Linked DNA regions of Homo sapiens. The main gene of each other region encodes a partner of the protein of the gene in region 2 in a complex. Each region holds a gene or a part of one and is shown on either strand. Other genes may lie near its edges.

Region 1 (7,000 bases), on a different chromosome or scaffold from region 2:
CTGGATCCCCAGTGAGTTAACTGAATTATCAGACTTCTAACTAGTTTAAGTCCCAGGCTGAAGCTAACAACATTACTTTTTGCGCTCTCTGTAGATATTCCTAGTAAAATGACCCAGAGAAAACTGGGTTTGGGGTGCCTTCCCGGGGTAACAAAAAAGAACATTCTTTGGTAAATGAGATATCTCCACCTAGCAAACAATCCCCAGTGAGGGCTGCTCGGCTTTTTGCCCATCACGACCTCCCACCTTTCATGAAGATTGGATGCTGAGATGATGATCAAGGCTGGAGAACCATGCTTCATGTGGTGGAGTACCTGTAGGTGGATTCATACCAAATCCACTATCAGTGCTTGGCTGTTTCAAAATAAACACCATTTTACACTCTTTAATTAACTTCACCCAGAGAGCTCAGAAGGTTTTGATGCTTTTTATACATTTTTTTTGTATGTTAAGACAGGGTCTCCCTGTATCACCCAGGCTGGAGTGGAGTGCAGTAGTGCAGTCATAGCTCACTGTAACCTTGAACTCCTGGGCTCAAGCAATCCTCCCACCTCAGCCTCCTGAGTAACTAGGACTACAGGCATGTACCACCACACTCAGTTAATATTTTAATATTTTGTGGAGATGGGGTCTCGCTGTGTGTCCAGGCTGGTCACTGACTCCTGGCCTCAAGCAATCCTTCCGCCCCAGCCTCCCATGTAGCTGAGATTACAGGCATGAGCGACCACACCCCACTGTTTTTTTAAATGCTATTCCACTGTTACGGATTACACAGAAATTCCTGATACACTCTTACTACCCCCACCCCGTTTTTGTCTTTCAGGTATAGGGCTCAAGGAATAAGCGCAAATAAATTTGTGGACTCCACGTTCTATCTTCTTTTGGACTTGATCACCTTTTTTGACGAGTATCATAGTGGTCATATTGATAGAGCTTTTGATGTAAGTTTCAGGAAAGGTGTTTGAAGTGCAGGTTAATGTACACCCTCGAAAATTCAAAACACTTCATGGAATTTACTTAAAACAAAGGAGCTGTTGCCAGTATGTTTGTTGTATAAAGAAAGACAAGTACAATCCTGGGACTTAAAAGGAGTTTCCTGTGTGGCTTTTTTTTTTTTTTTTTTTTTTTTTTTGCCTATTCCTTTCCCCTTTAATCTGAAAACAGAGAAGTTTCTCAAAGTAATTTGCAATCTCAGAATTTTAAAAATTGTGTCAGGAAATGATGATAAGAATTAAGTTAGCTAGTTAGAATCAAAGCCTTTGTGTGTACAAGGAGGAATGGCGTTTTCTATGAAGAAGCCCTTTGGAGTATGTGAGGTGCTGACTTTACATGTAGAGAGATGAAATGACTGTGATGGTTGTGTTACATGGGGCCGGTGGTTGTTTTAAACAGATCATTGAGCGCTTGAAGCTGGTGCCCCTGAATCAGGAAAGTGTGGAAGAGAGAGTGGCTGCCTTCAGAAATTTCAGTGATGAAGTAAGTTCCTTCTTCCTGAGTTGTGGAATTCCTTTTTCCCCACTTCCACCAAAAGCTTTTTCTTTTCCTGTACCTAACAGCTTTAAGAATTCTAGTTACAGTAACTATCCAGACTGAGTTTTCCAGAGTGGTTCCCTTTCAGATACCTTGGCCTGGCTTTTCTGTGAGTGCATACATCCCCATCAGATTATTGTCTGAATTCCTAATTGAGAAAATACAGTCACTTCAGTGATTGACATGTTCTTGGGAGAAACAGGTTTCTGGTTGATCTGTGAAGTCTGGTTTAATTCTTCTATTATCCGCTTGTGCTAGAGGGTATTTTAGTGCTTAACTCTGATCATCTTTAAGTAGTTCCATTGGGTACGTGAAACACATCATGATTCACTGCCACCTTTGCCCTCCCTTATCTGTTTTGGGATTTTTTTGTTTTTGAAACGGAGGAGTCTCACTCTGTCACCCAGGCTGGAGTGCAGTGGTGTGATCTTGGCTCACTGCAAGCTCTACCTCCCGGGTTCACACCATTCTCCTGCCTCAGCCTCACGAGTAGCTGGGACTACAGGTGCCCGCCAACACGCCCAGCTAATTTTTTGTATATTTAGTAGAGATGGGGTTTCACCGTGTTAGCCAGGATGGTCTCGATCTTCTGACCTCGTGATCTGCCCGCCTCGGCCTCCCAAAATGCTGGGATTACAGGCGTGAGCCACCGTGCCCAGCCAATCCATTTTGTCTAAAGACGCAAGTGCAGTGACCGCGGAGTAAGCTATCACCCCATAAGCCCCAGAGCCACTGTCTGTTGGGTTTCTAGCATATTGCCAGCATCTAGCCTAGGGTGCTCAGCTGGGCTGCATACTGGCATCTCTAGAAAAGTTTCTAAAAACCCTCATGCCTACACCCCAGAGATTCTGTTTTCCCTGATTGCTGCAGCCCAGACCTCCCCCAGTCATTCCAGTGTGTGGCCCAGGTAAATTCTTCTCTAGAACTATAAACACTCAACTCAGCTGTCGACACTATAGACTCTAGAACCAGCTGCCTGGCTCTGGGATGTCACTAGTGGTCTTTCAGTTTACAATTCTTCCTCATTGAGCAGATGCCTTTTATAAAATGTCTCCAGCCAGGTGCGGTGGCTCACACCTATAATCCCAACATTTTGGGAGGCTGAGGCGGACTGATCACCTGAGGTCAGGAGTTCGAGACCAGCCTGGCCAACATGGTAAAATCCCATCTCTACTAAAAAATACAAAAATTAGCCGGGCGTGGTGACGCATACCTGTAGTCCCAGCTATTCCAGAGGCTGAGGCACGAGAATCGCTTGAACCCGGGAAGCAAAGGTTGCAGTGAGCCGAGATTGCGCCACTTCACTCCAGCCTGGGCGATAGAGGGAGACTTTGTCTCAAAAAAAAAAAAAAAAAGTTTCTATTTTAGAGAAAGAAGTAAGGCCAGTTCTGCACATGAAGAGGGATGTTGACTGCTGTGGTACACACAGTTCAGAAGGTCTTGCCCCTTGCTGACCTTCCCTTTATACCTGCTGTGGCTTCTACCCTTAGCCACTTGCTCCTTTGTTATTTCTGGCCTTTCCTTGAATGCATCCTTCATTGCATCAGGGATTAAAGTGGTACACGAGGGCCTGGCCTTATAGACACTCCCAAGGACTCTGGTAGGGTCATGCAGATCTAGTGGAAACAGCCCGGTGAGTTTGAGAGAGTGAGGAGTGGTAGGGACTGTGGAGAAGTAGCGTGTGCACCTGTACCTCCTGACATTCAAGTTCAAATTATTTAATGGCAGCCACTCTGCTGGCCAGTCTAAGCCTAATGCTAACCAGATGTCAGCATGCTTTTGGCTCACTGCCCCTGACTAAGGGAAAAACAGCATAAAGGAGCAGGAACAGTAACCACCTGACCTGAGCAGCATTGCTTGGGTTTTTTTCTCACACTTGATGTTTCAGTGCCATCAGCTCCTTTTGGGTGACTGTGTGGCTCTCCACCTGGCAATGGTGAGGAGTGGTGCAACCAGGCCTGCCTGGAGCAGCCCACCCTCCCTCCATCTGTGGTTGGCCCCAAAGGCTTGGTTCTTTTTCTTTACTCTGTTTTTCTCTCTATGTAGATCAGGCACAACCTCTCAGAAGTGCTTCTTGCCACCATGAACATCTTGTTCACACAGTTTAAGAGGCTCAAGGGGACAAGTCCATCCTCGTCATCCAGGCCCCAGCGAGTCATCGAGGACCGCGACTCTGTAAGATCCCAGCATTCGCGAGAAACATTGCTAAGCACCACCTTTCTGGTTTGGAATCCGTTGCGCTCTTATGAGACCACATGACCCAAAACTGCTCTTTCTCCTCAGTACCTGGCAGCTGGATAAATCTCGTGTTAGGAGGCTCCCAGAGGAAATCAAATATTAAAGGGATTGCTGCTCTTCTCAAGCTTAAAAAAATAAAAAGATGTACTAGGTCTGCAAATCTTACCTTTTAACAAATCAAACAGAATGCTAATTTCTAGTTGACTCCATAAGAACTTCCTGCACATTTTAAAAGATAAGTTTATTTTGTTAGTCCTAGCTCATTAGTGAACACTTTTATTAAAACCATACTTTATTTTTGATCAACACATTAATGTGAACCCTTGTTTCTCCTGTCACCTGTGTTCACAGTGACCCTAGAGAGGTAACTAGGACAGCATCTTATCCCCTCTCACAGCTGAGGAAACTGAGCTGTGGAGTTGGGAAGCAACTGCCCTCAGGTGGCAGGTAGGTGAAGGGGCCATGTCTGGAGGCTGGGTCTCTCTGACACCTGTGCCCTTTCTGCTGCCTGTGGGACCTCCAGCAGTGCATGGGTCAAGTGGAGTCCAGGTAGCTAGAACCCTGGGGCTCACAGCATATGTTGTCTGATTACAAAAAAAAAGAGCAAAGGTATTTTTTGACCCAGTTAAACCATAAGGGGACAGTCCAATGGTGTTTGCTTTTTTTTTTTTTTTGAGGCAGGGCCTGGCTCTGTTGCCCAGGCTGGAATGCAATGACACGATCTCAGCTCACTGCAACCTCTACCTCTTGGGCTCAAGCCACCCTCCCACCTCACCCTCCCAAGTAGCTGGGACTACAGGTACGCACCACCACACCCAGCGGAGTTTTGTACTTTATATAGAGATGGAATTTTACCATGTTGCCCAGACTGGTCTCGAACTCCTGAGCTCAAGAGATCCCCCAACCTCGGCCTCCCAAAGTGCTAGGATTACAGATGTGAGCCACCGTTCCCGGCCCCACAATAGTGTTTTTTAAAATTACCTTTCCTTTAACCTTTCCACTTAATTTTTGATGAGACTCTCAGCATCTCAGTGTCTAACATCAGACCTGGTTTTGGCAGCCAAGAAGCCTTGATCTGTCTTCTGCCTCCAAGATGTCTGTGAGCTCTTTCCACTGTGACCCCACAGGCATGGTTGTTGACAAAACTTGTGCTTAGTGAAAGATGGCGGAAATTTCCACCTTTAGGAATGTGGGTAACAGTGCTCAAGAGTGGTCCACTGAAGCGGTCAGCCCATCCAGGTGTGCACCAGAGCATTTGCTGGTCTTCTGCCTACCCCGGACAGATAGGAGTCTAAATGTCAGATGTGCCAGCGGTGGGTTCATGGTGCCCACCATTTGGCAGGAATCTTTTTTGATGATAGAAACCCAGGGCAGTGATGTTTGTGAATGTGAGTATTGAGATGGTGGATACTTCTTGGTGCTCTGTGTGCTGCTTACAGTTCAGTGGGGCTTGCCCACTGAGAAGAGCTGGTCCCCTGGCAGGCCATGTCTCATGTCTGAAGATCATTCTCCTGCCTTCCTTTTGCCCACCACTCTCCTTTTTCTTTCTTTTTCTGAAAGGTAGGGAGGGATAGGATTAAGTAAAAGGTTATCTATAAAAGCTGCGTGCCCAAGAAGTCTGCAAGCCCACTGACGTCCTTGGTTTCATGGTTTAAAGTGAGATGCTGCCTAGTAAAGGGGTGAATCCTTTTACTTGAACATCCCTAGAGCTCATTTAACGAGAGCCCTTTTATTCACTTCTAAAGAAAATACAGTGGATATTCACATCACAAAGTCAGATTTCTTTTTGTTTGGACATCAATAAGGACATACACTCGCTAGTTTGTTTTACACATCAGGTAAAAAGCATTTGCTTTTCCGTTTTCTTCTGGAATGGTCCTTAAGTAAGCCTAGTAGATGACTCCTCAGTGTTTCTTTAAATTCTTGTTACTAGTCCAGAAAGGTGTTGGTGGTAGATTTCTCCCTTTCTAGTCCAGATTTGGTTTAAATTTGTAGGGCCACCTTTTTCCATCCTGAACAATCCAGGAATTCCATAAATACTGTTGCCTGGGGAAAGAAGGGCTAAGCATGTATGTCGGGAAGGGAGAAACAGGAGGAATGAAAGGAAGGAAGAGGAAAGATGCATGGGAGGAAGAGAGCTGGATTGGGACTGCACAGTCACAGCCCTTGCCTCCGGTGTCACAAGGGCTTCATGGGGCTCTGGAGAGTCAGATCCCTGTGAAAGCAGATGGACAGAAACCAGCCAGAGAGAGAGGCTCAGAAGATTGGAGCAGGCAGTTCTGAAGCTCAGGGCTGTGTCAAAAGCTAGCCAAATGTGTTGGGGCGAGGCGGCTTGCCTGGCAAACCCATCTGCTTTTTGCTTAATAGATGGGTTTGGATGCCTGTGGAACAGAGGCCTCGGGGGACGAGCTTTGTTAACTTTGTGTTATGTTGAAGGAATGTGACAGAGGAGGGTATGACTGTCATCCACCCATCAGGGATCTGTCCCTGACACGCTGGGGTAGAGGATGGAAGAACATGGAATAGAGGATGGAAGAATATGGAATAGTGCCCTGACTCGAAAGTTAACCGATTTCCTTCCCTTCCTTCCCTTCTCTCTCAGCAACTCCGAAGTCAAGCCCGCACTCTGATTACCTTTGCTGGAATGATACCATACCGAACGTCTGGGGACACCAATGCGAGGCTGGTGCAGATGGAGGTCCTCATGAATTAAGTGCCATGCTTTGTGGGAGTCTGGGTCGGCACACTGTCAGTACATCAGGCACATGGGCCCACTAGGCTGGGGTTTCTGGTTTTGTTTCTGTTGTGTTTTGTTTTGGTTTCTGTATTATGTATTTTTGTCAACGCCAATAAATTTCTTTGATTTGTATTTCTTTTCAACATTCTTTTATTTTCTTTTTTTTTTTCTTTGAAATTTTGTTTACATTTTTATTTGTGTAATGGGAAATACCGTCACTAGCTCTTGGGCCAGGGAATGAGAGGCTATGTAGATATTCATTATTTGGTTAAATTGACCTTAATTAATTAAAAATCTACCCAAAATGAGCCAGGAAACAAAGCCTTTGGGAGTTACTTTTATTTAGATATAATATTCCATATAGCAGAGTCACGATTCATTTTCACATTTTTATTTGAATGTGAAAGTCAACCTCAGCCTTAGAAGATGTAAGATTTGTGTGTGAAATATCAAGCACTCCATGTCCTCCTCTAGAGAGTGTGACTTAAGTCCAGA
Region 2 (7,333 bases):
TTATTGGTTTTTAAACCCTAATTCAACTACTTTTTTTTGCAAGGAATTCAAATGTTTTGAAAACAGCATGCCAAACATATCACATTGGCAGACTTGTTGCCAGTTAGCAACCTTGGTTTTGGTGAATTAATTTATGTCTAAATTAACTTATATTTCTACTTAGTCTCTGTCAAGACTAAGTAACTTTTCAAAGGAAGCATACCAATATACTTACCTCCAAACAACAAGAATGTGTTTCTTGAAGGAAGAGATTTGACAGATAAATGGAATGCTAGCCAATCTAAAATTGTTTTGTTATTTTTGTAACTTATTGTCAGTCTTCAGCTGATTACCAATGTGGTATCAAAAAGCCTTTCAAGACAAATGTTTGAACCATTAGTGTCGAATTATATTGCAGATTTTTTGGAATCTTCCTTTAATCTCATTTATTTCTGGTATACAACACAGATTCATCAATATTGCAATATAGAAAATACAAGAAGAAAAACATGCAACCATTTTATATTAATCACCTCATTCTGATTTGGAAAACTACTCAAGAGTAAGCTGCATGTTGCATGCAGGCACAACTAAATATTCTATTTACTTGTAGGTTCTACTGCAGTACTGCAAACTATAAACATTTTCATAAAAGTCACCCACAGTACTAAGCACTGTTGTAATTTCTTTTCATTATTCTTCACTTCCATAGAATAACTATGATATAATCTGAATTGGCTACGCAATAGAAACACTAGTCAGTTTCTCATCATGCTCCACAACATCAAAAATGTTTTAGTAATAGCAGATCTGCAAGTATACAAAATAAAAAGTAAACAAGAAAGTCTATCAGCCCTTTGCTGAAGGTTAACACATATAAAAGTAGTTAAAACATATTACATTATCATAACTCAAAACTTAACAGTGATAACTCCAAATGAACATGAAATCAAGCAAATACCAACAAGTTTATTTATTGTTGTTGAATTATGAGCTGGGTGGCTTTATTCAGAAACACAAATTTCAAAGTAAGATTTCTGTTTTACCCAGTGCCAATTTTAAGCAAACAAGGAAAAGTAAACACATCAAAGGACAGTGATATGTGATTACTTCGAATACATCTTAATTAAAATGCATCATCTTGTCTTTGAAGTTTTCAAATATTCTTCGAACTGTTTTCAACTCAGATGCTAGGGTGATAATCACATTGCAGTAACCAGTGAATGAACAAAATAACAAACTTCCCAATTAACTTTTAGGGAGTAAATAATGTTTATCAAATGCATATAATTGGCATGGGCACAAGAGGCATAACGTAAGAGACTATGGACGATAAATTCATATACGAGCAGCTGAAGAACAAGTTTTTTTCTACAGTGTCACTATGTAAAGTACCCATAAACCTATTTTAAATGTATATATCATTATTGTTTTGCAAAATTTCTAATGAGCTGCAAACAACCCACGTGCATATGAAAATCTTCATAATTATCTTTTTGAATGCAAAGACGTCTAGCTTACCTTTTAGAATTCGATGCTATATCACATAAAACTAAACTGCTCTCTTTGAGCATTTCCCAAAATTCCAGCAAAGAACTGGGGATTCTTTCTATAATTACAAATCTTATAGAAATTACACATCTTATAGTATCCTAATCTGCTGAGTTGACCAAAGAAATACATTATTATCATTATAACACAAGTTAAAAAACAAAACAGGTTACTGCTGTTCGTATAAGACTTGTTTCTCTTTGGAAACACAAGGACAATAAAATGAAATCTCAATGAAAGATGCAGAAAAAATGAAAAATGACTGCAGGAGTCCAAGAATCCCAGGATGGGCTTGACTGGTGGTGAGTTTATACTTTGGAAGTCCTACCTAATAATTTTAAAGATCTATTCAAAATTATAATCCAAATGCTTATCATTTGGAAGATAAGTGCACATTTAATAAAGGAACACTGTAACTTGCAAAACTTTCCTAAACCACATCTTTTAAGGCAGTAAAAACTTGATACAGATGTTTTTGATTCGAGATAAGGAAATAAATTTCCTTTCCCTATTAGACAAGTAACTGTTCTTTCCCAAACTCCAGGAACCACAATATTCTTGGACTCCAGCTCCCAACACTGGTTACACATACAACCCGCAGTATCTACCTGCACTTGCCAGACTGTTACCAAAATTGAACGGAGTCGCCGAGGTAGTAGAAACACCGAAATTCCCAATATTAAAGTTCACTGCAGGATTAGCAGTTAATCCGAAACCCCCAAAATTAAACCCACTGGCGGTGGAGTTGGCAGTCTCAAGCCCACCAAATCCTGATAGGCGTGTAGGCAAAGAAACAAAATTTTAAAAAGGGGGAGAGGGAAAAAGAAAAGAAAGCAAGATAAGGATTAGAAGAATCAGCAGGAGGTTTCACAGAAGTGAACAAACCTGGTTTTGCTCCAAACAGTTTAAGAAAGCAGAGTGGGGGTGGGGTGGGGCAGATGGAAGAAGCATGACGGATAAACCCCACAGCGAGGACCACAGGGGGCCGGGGGTGGAACTAAGGGAGTCAATGGGCAGTGCCGGTGGATCCCCAGCCCTATCCTCGCCGAGTCCGGCAGCGGGAACCACGCAAGCGTTCCCGCCCATCCAGGAGGCTGAGGTGCAGAGGGGAGGGAGGTTCTCGGGCAAGGGGAGAGGGAAGCAACCTCCAATTTCTCTGAGTAGGACTCCCCGGCAGCGGGAAGCGAACCGCTCAAGCCAGGGCCCTGTGGAAACTCACGCGCGGCAAGCGAGCTTCTAGTGGGACCCCGAGTACCCCCGTGGCCTCCTCGGGTGCCGCCTCGGCCCACTCTGCCGCCGCCCGCCCTTTTCCAATGCCTCTAAAGTCTCCGCGTCGGCGGGAGATTCCAGGATCCCCAGGTCGGAGAGTCTCGGACAGAGGGGGCGGACCAGACCCTTCCCCTTCTTCCCGGGTGAAGGTCTAGGGGGATCACTCACCCGCGGGGGCCGCGGTGGCTGCAGCGGTACCGGAGGTGCCCGAGGGAGCCCCAAAATTGAAGGCCATGTCGCGAAAGCAGGAGACCAAGTAGGTTACTCCTGCGACGCGCAGCGCGCTCCCCTTCTCAGTCCGGCCGGGAAACCGCCAGTCAGATCACCGAGTTCCGCCTCCTTTCTGACCTAGCCTAAGAGGCCGGAAGGCGCCAAGGGCGTAGGAGGTGGGTGGTTGTGAGGGAACGCCCCCAGCCAGCTCACTTCCGGTGGGCTTCACATGCTGTGGGGTGTCACTGTTAAGGTAAAATGCTGGGACGCTCGCGAGGGTGTGCCGCCTGAGAGTCCTTTAAAAACTGCCGTAGGGAGGTTCTTTGGGAAAGGTGTGCAGAGGCTGAAGTTGTTACTGTAGGGATACGCGGTAGACAGCTAGAATTTGTATGTGGTAGGGTTGAAGTTGCTGCCTCATCAACTAGCGGGCCTGGGAGGTCGGGCAGCAGGGCTGGGGTTGAGAACCCCCCCAACACCCACGAGGAGGTGGTATTTGAACCCAGTGCTGAAGGATGAGTAGACGGAGCAGAAGCAGTAAAGAGGATGCACGTTGGAAGAAATGAAAGCGAATGGAATTGTAGCAAACACGTTGCGTTTACTATGTGCCAGGCACTCTTCTAGACATTTTACATAATTTAATCAGCTATCTTATGAGGTGGGTTGCTGCTATCTCCAATTTATAAAAGAGGAAACAGGTACCAAAGGGTCAGGCTGTTTACAGAGTAAATACTCCTAACCACAGCTCTAAGGGGAGCACTGAAAAAGAGGGGAAGAGTGGGCCCCCTCTGTTGTACTTGTAATATAATTTAATCCTCAGAATAAATAAATAGAGAAGATTCTGTAACTGTATTTTGCAGGTGAGATGAGAGAATTGAGGTTTGGAGTTGTTAAGCAGCTTGCCCAAAGTCACCTTGCAGGTAGGTTCTGGAGTCTGGTTTTGGACTCATGTTTCTCCACTCCAGAGTCCCAATTTGTAAAAATTACCATTATATTATATTGCCTTGTAAATTATGGTAAGGATTTCAGACTATTTCTTGAGGGTAATGGGAAACCTTTAAGGGGTTTTAGGCAGAGGACTAGTATGACTAGAATTTTGTTTTTAGAAGATCCCTCTGGCTGCCATAAGGAGAATGGATTGGAAGGAGCCAGAATGCCTGAGGAAGATAGAGCTTTTAGGAGTCTGTTGTAGTTGCACAGGTAGGAGATGATAATGACTTGGATTACATCTGGCAGTGGAATTAGGAGAATAAATTTGAGAGATACTTAAGAAATAGCATATATGAGACTCGTAGTATTTGGACGTGGGAAGTAAGGATTCAAGGACAACCTCCTGCTTTCTGGCTTGGGCAAGTTGGTGAATGGTGGACCCGTGTCTGACTCCTACAAACTGAGTATGCTCTCATACCCACTGCCCTGCCTTCTTTCACTGTTTGTCACAGATAATTTATCAATCTAATTTTTCCTTACAATAGTATATATTCCATAAGTGCAAGAACCATGTCCCTCTTGTTCCATGCCCATCACAAGTGCCTGGCATATAACAGGGGGAAATAAATAATGAATGAATGACAGATAGGTGGAAACCAGATCTTGAAAGACCTTCCTTAGCATGTTAAGGAGCTTTGATTTACCAGCAGTTTGTCCAGCTGCGGCCCACAGGCCACATGTGGCTCATGGCTTAGGATGGCTTTGAATGCAGCCCAACACAAATTCGTAAACTTTATTGAAACATTGTGAGGTTTTTTGCGATTTTTTTTAAAGCTCATCAGCTATTGTTAGTGTATTTTATGTGTGGCCCAAGACAATTCTTCTTCTTCCAGTGTGGCCCAAGGAAGCCAAAAGATTGGACACCCCTGATTTAGCACATAGCCTAACGCTTAAGTACTTAGCTTACCTTAAAAAAACAAACAACCATTCTTCTTCTTCCAGCGTGGCCCAGGGAAGCCAAAAGATTGGACACCCCTGATTTAGCACATTGTCTAATGGCTAAGTACTCAGCTTACCTTAAAAAAACAAACAGCCCTCCCAGTCTAGCAGAAAGGAAAACCAATGATTAATTTATGGAATCTGCCAGAAGCTCAGGAATTGGAGATATCACGTATCTTCATAAGTTGGGGTAAAGGGAAGTTAAAATGAGAGGAACTGGTTGAAAGTCTATTTAAGAAGCAGTTAGAGCTCCCCAAATCCTCTTCTGACCTCGTGCAGCCAAGTGAATGCTTCTTCCCCACTCTAGAAAAATAATGGAGGATTCTTCTCTACAGTGATTAAAATAGTATTTGCCAGGCACAGTGGCACCAGCCTATAGTCCCATCTACTCGGAAAGCTGATGTGGGAGGATTGCTTGAGCCTAGGAGTTCAGCCAGCCTGGGCAACACAGTGGGGACTCCCCCCCACCCCCCGTCAGTGTAAAAAAAAAAAAAATAGTAGTGTCTCTGGACTTGGGGGCACCAGACATTATTGAGAGTGGGTAGTGCCCTACTGAATGGTGGAAGACTGAGTGGAAATGCATGCCTATACACACCTTCCCCTACTGCTCCCAGAACATTGGCAGCCAGGCCTTCGCCCTCCAGGAAGATATAGGAGAATTTTTTATGGGTGAAATGACCAGTATCAAAGAAAAGACAATCATCTGACATCAGAAATCTCTAAATAAATGATTTAGCCACATGACATTATAGCAGTGGTTCTCAACTGGTGCCAATTTTCTACTTCTCCCATCCCCTGGCACATCTGGCAGTGTCTACAGACAGTTTTGGTGGTTGCAATTGGGAAGATCTTACAGGCATCTATTGAGTAGAAGTTGAAGATGCTGCAAAATACTCTAGGACAGACTCCCTTCCTACCCAAACAAAAAATTACCTGGCCCCAAATACCACTATTACAGAGTTTGAGAAATCCTGCTTTATAATAAAGCTCACACTTTGCAAGCCTCACTAAGGCACTCAGAACTTCCATTCAGCTTTTAAGTCCCACTCTTATATATGAGTAGACCAGCAAGGATTACCAAGCTGAGGAGAGCCTTTAACACAATGTATAGAGGTCAAAACAAATAGAGCAGCAAAAGCAGCTTGGAGGAAACTAACTGCAAGGAGAATAAAACTTTTAAAAAGTGAACATATCCGCAGAGAGATAGGAAGAGATATTGTAACCATGAAATAATATCAGGATGTTATTATTTTCAAAGAAAGGTATTCTTAGCAGAACAAAAGAGAGCTATTGGAATTTTAAAGCTATTACCAGAAATGAAAAACCCAGTAGAAGTGTCGGAAGATAAAGGTGAAGAAATCTCTCAGAAAGAAAAACAAAAAGACCAAGGATGGAAAATTGAGGAGAAACTAAAACTAGAGGACTAGTTCAAAAAGCCCTCTATCACACACACTGTTATATCATGCACACTAATACAATAATTTCAGAAAGAGTATAGAGAAAAATCTGTCCTTTAAAGTCCTTCAAGATTTGGTCTCTTCCTATTATTCGTTCATTCAGAGTTTATTGAGTCCTACTATGTACTTGGTACTATTCTGAGTGCTAAACAAAAAAGGTATGGTTTGTGCCTTTGAGAACTTACAGTTGAGTGAGGGAAAACCAGATATTGAGTTAATAGTACACTTGTGGGCCAAGTGCAGTGGCTCATACTTGTAATCCCAGCACTTTGGGGGACCAAGGCGGCAGAGTCACTGAGCTGGGGAGATTGAGACCAGCCTGGGTAATATAGGGAGACCCCATCTCTACAAAAAAAAAAAAAAATAGACCAAATTAGCCAGGTGTGGCACACGCCAATAGCCCCAGAGGTTGACGCTGCAGTGAGCAGCCATCATGCCACTGCACTCCAGCCTGGGTGACGGAGTGAAACATTGTCTCAAAAATAAAGAAAAAAAAAATAGTATACTTGTGACTGTTCAAGAAGGCAGCACAGCTGAGGAAATTATTAAATAATTCAAGAAAATTTATCATAATTGAAAGACACTGCTGGGTTGAAAATGGTTCACCAAATGCTCATTACAATTAATCAAAATAGACTCACACTAAGGCACATTCCAAAATAACAGAACCATGATGGCAAAGAAGTTTCCAGAGAGTAAAAGAGGTCACACACACAAAAACAAGAATCAAAATGGCATCAGACTTCTCAATGGTAACACTAGCTAGAAGGCAGTTGAGAAATGCCTTTGAATTTCTGAATACAAATTATTTCCAGCTACAATTCTATTCCCAGCCAACTTATAGATCAACTATGAAGGGAGAATAATAGCATTTTTAGACAAAAAAAAAACTATTAAAAAACAAAATACCTCCTATTTCTTAGGCAGTTAGTTACTAGAGG

What was found.
Region 1: NUP54 (region 2) and NUP93 share a complex: the UniProt entries of both Homo sapiens proteins name them as parts of the p62 complex.

What each region holds. Positions count from the first base shown.
Region 1 is NC_000016.10:56,838,129-56,845,128, forward strand, and holds part of NUP93 (nuclear pore complex protein Nup93), read left to right. Parts: intron 1-823; coding exon 824-941; intron 942-1,392; coding exon 1,393-1,476; intron 1,477-3,576; coding exon 3,577-3,705; intron 3,706-6,370; coding exon 6,371-6,481; 3' UTR 6,482-7,000. UniProt on the Homo sapiens protein: Plays a role in the nuclear pore complex (NPC) assembly and/or maintenance. May anchor nucleoporins, but not NUP153 and TPR, to the NPC. During renal development, regulates podocyte migration and proliferation through SMAD4 signaling.
Region 2 is NC_000004.12:76,145,341-76,152,673, forward strand, and holds the start of NUP54 (nucleoporin p54), read right to left. Parts: upstream 3,058-7,333; 5' UTR 3,035-3,057; coding exon 2,968-3,034; exon of another isoform or gene 215-2,967; intron 1-214. UniProt on the Homo sapiens protein: Component of the nuclear pore complex, a complex required for the trafficking across the nuclear membrane.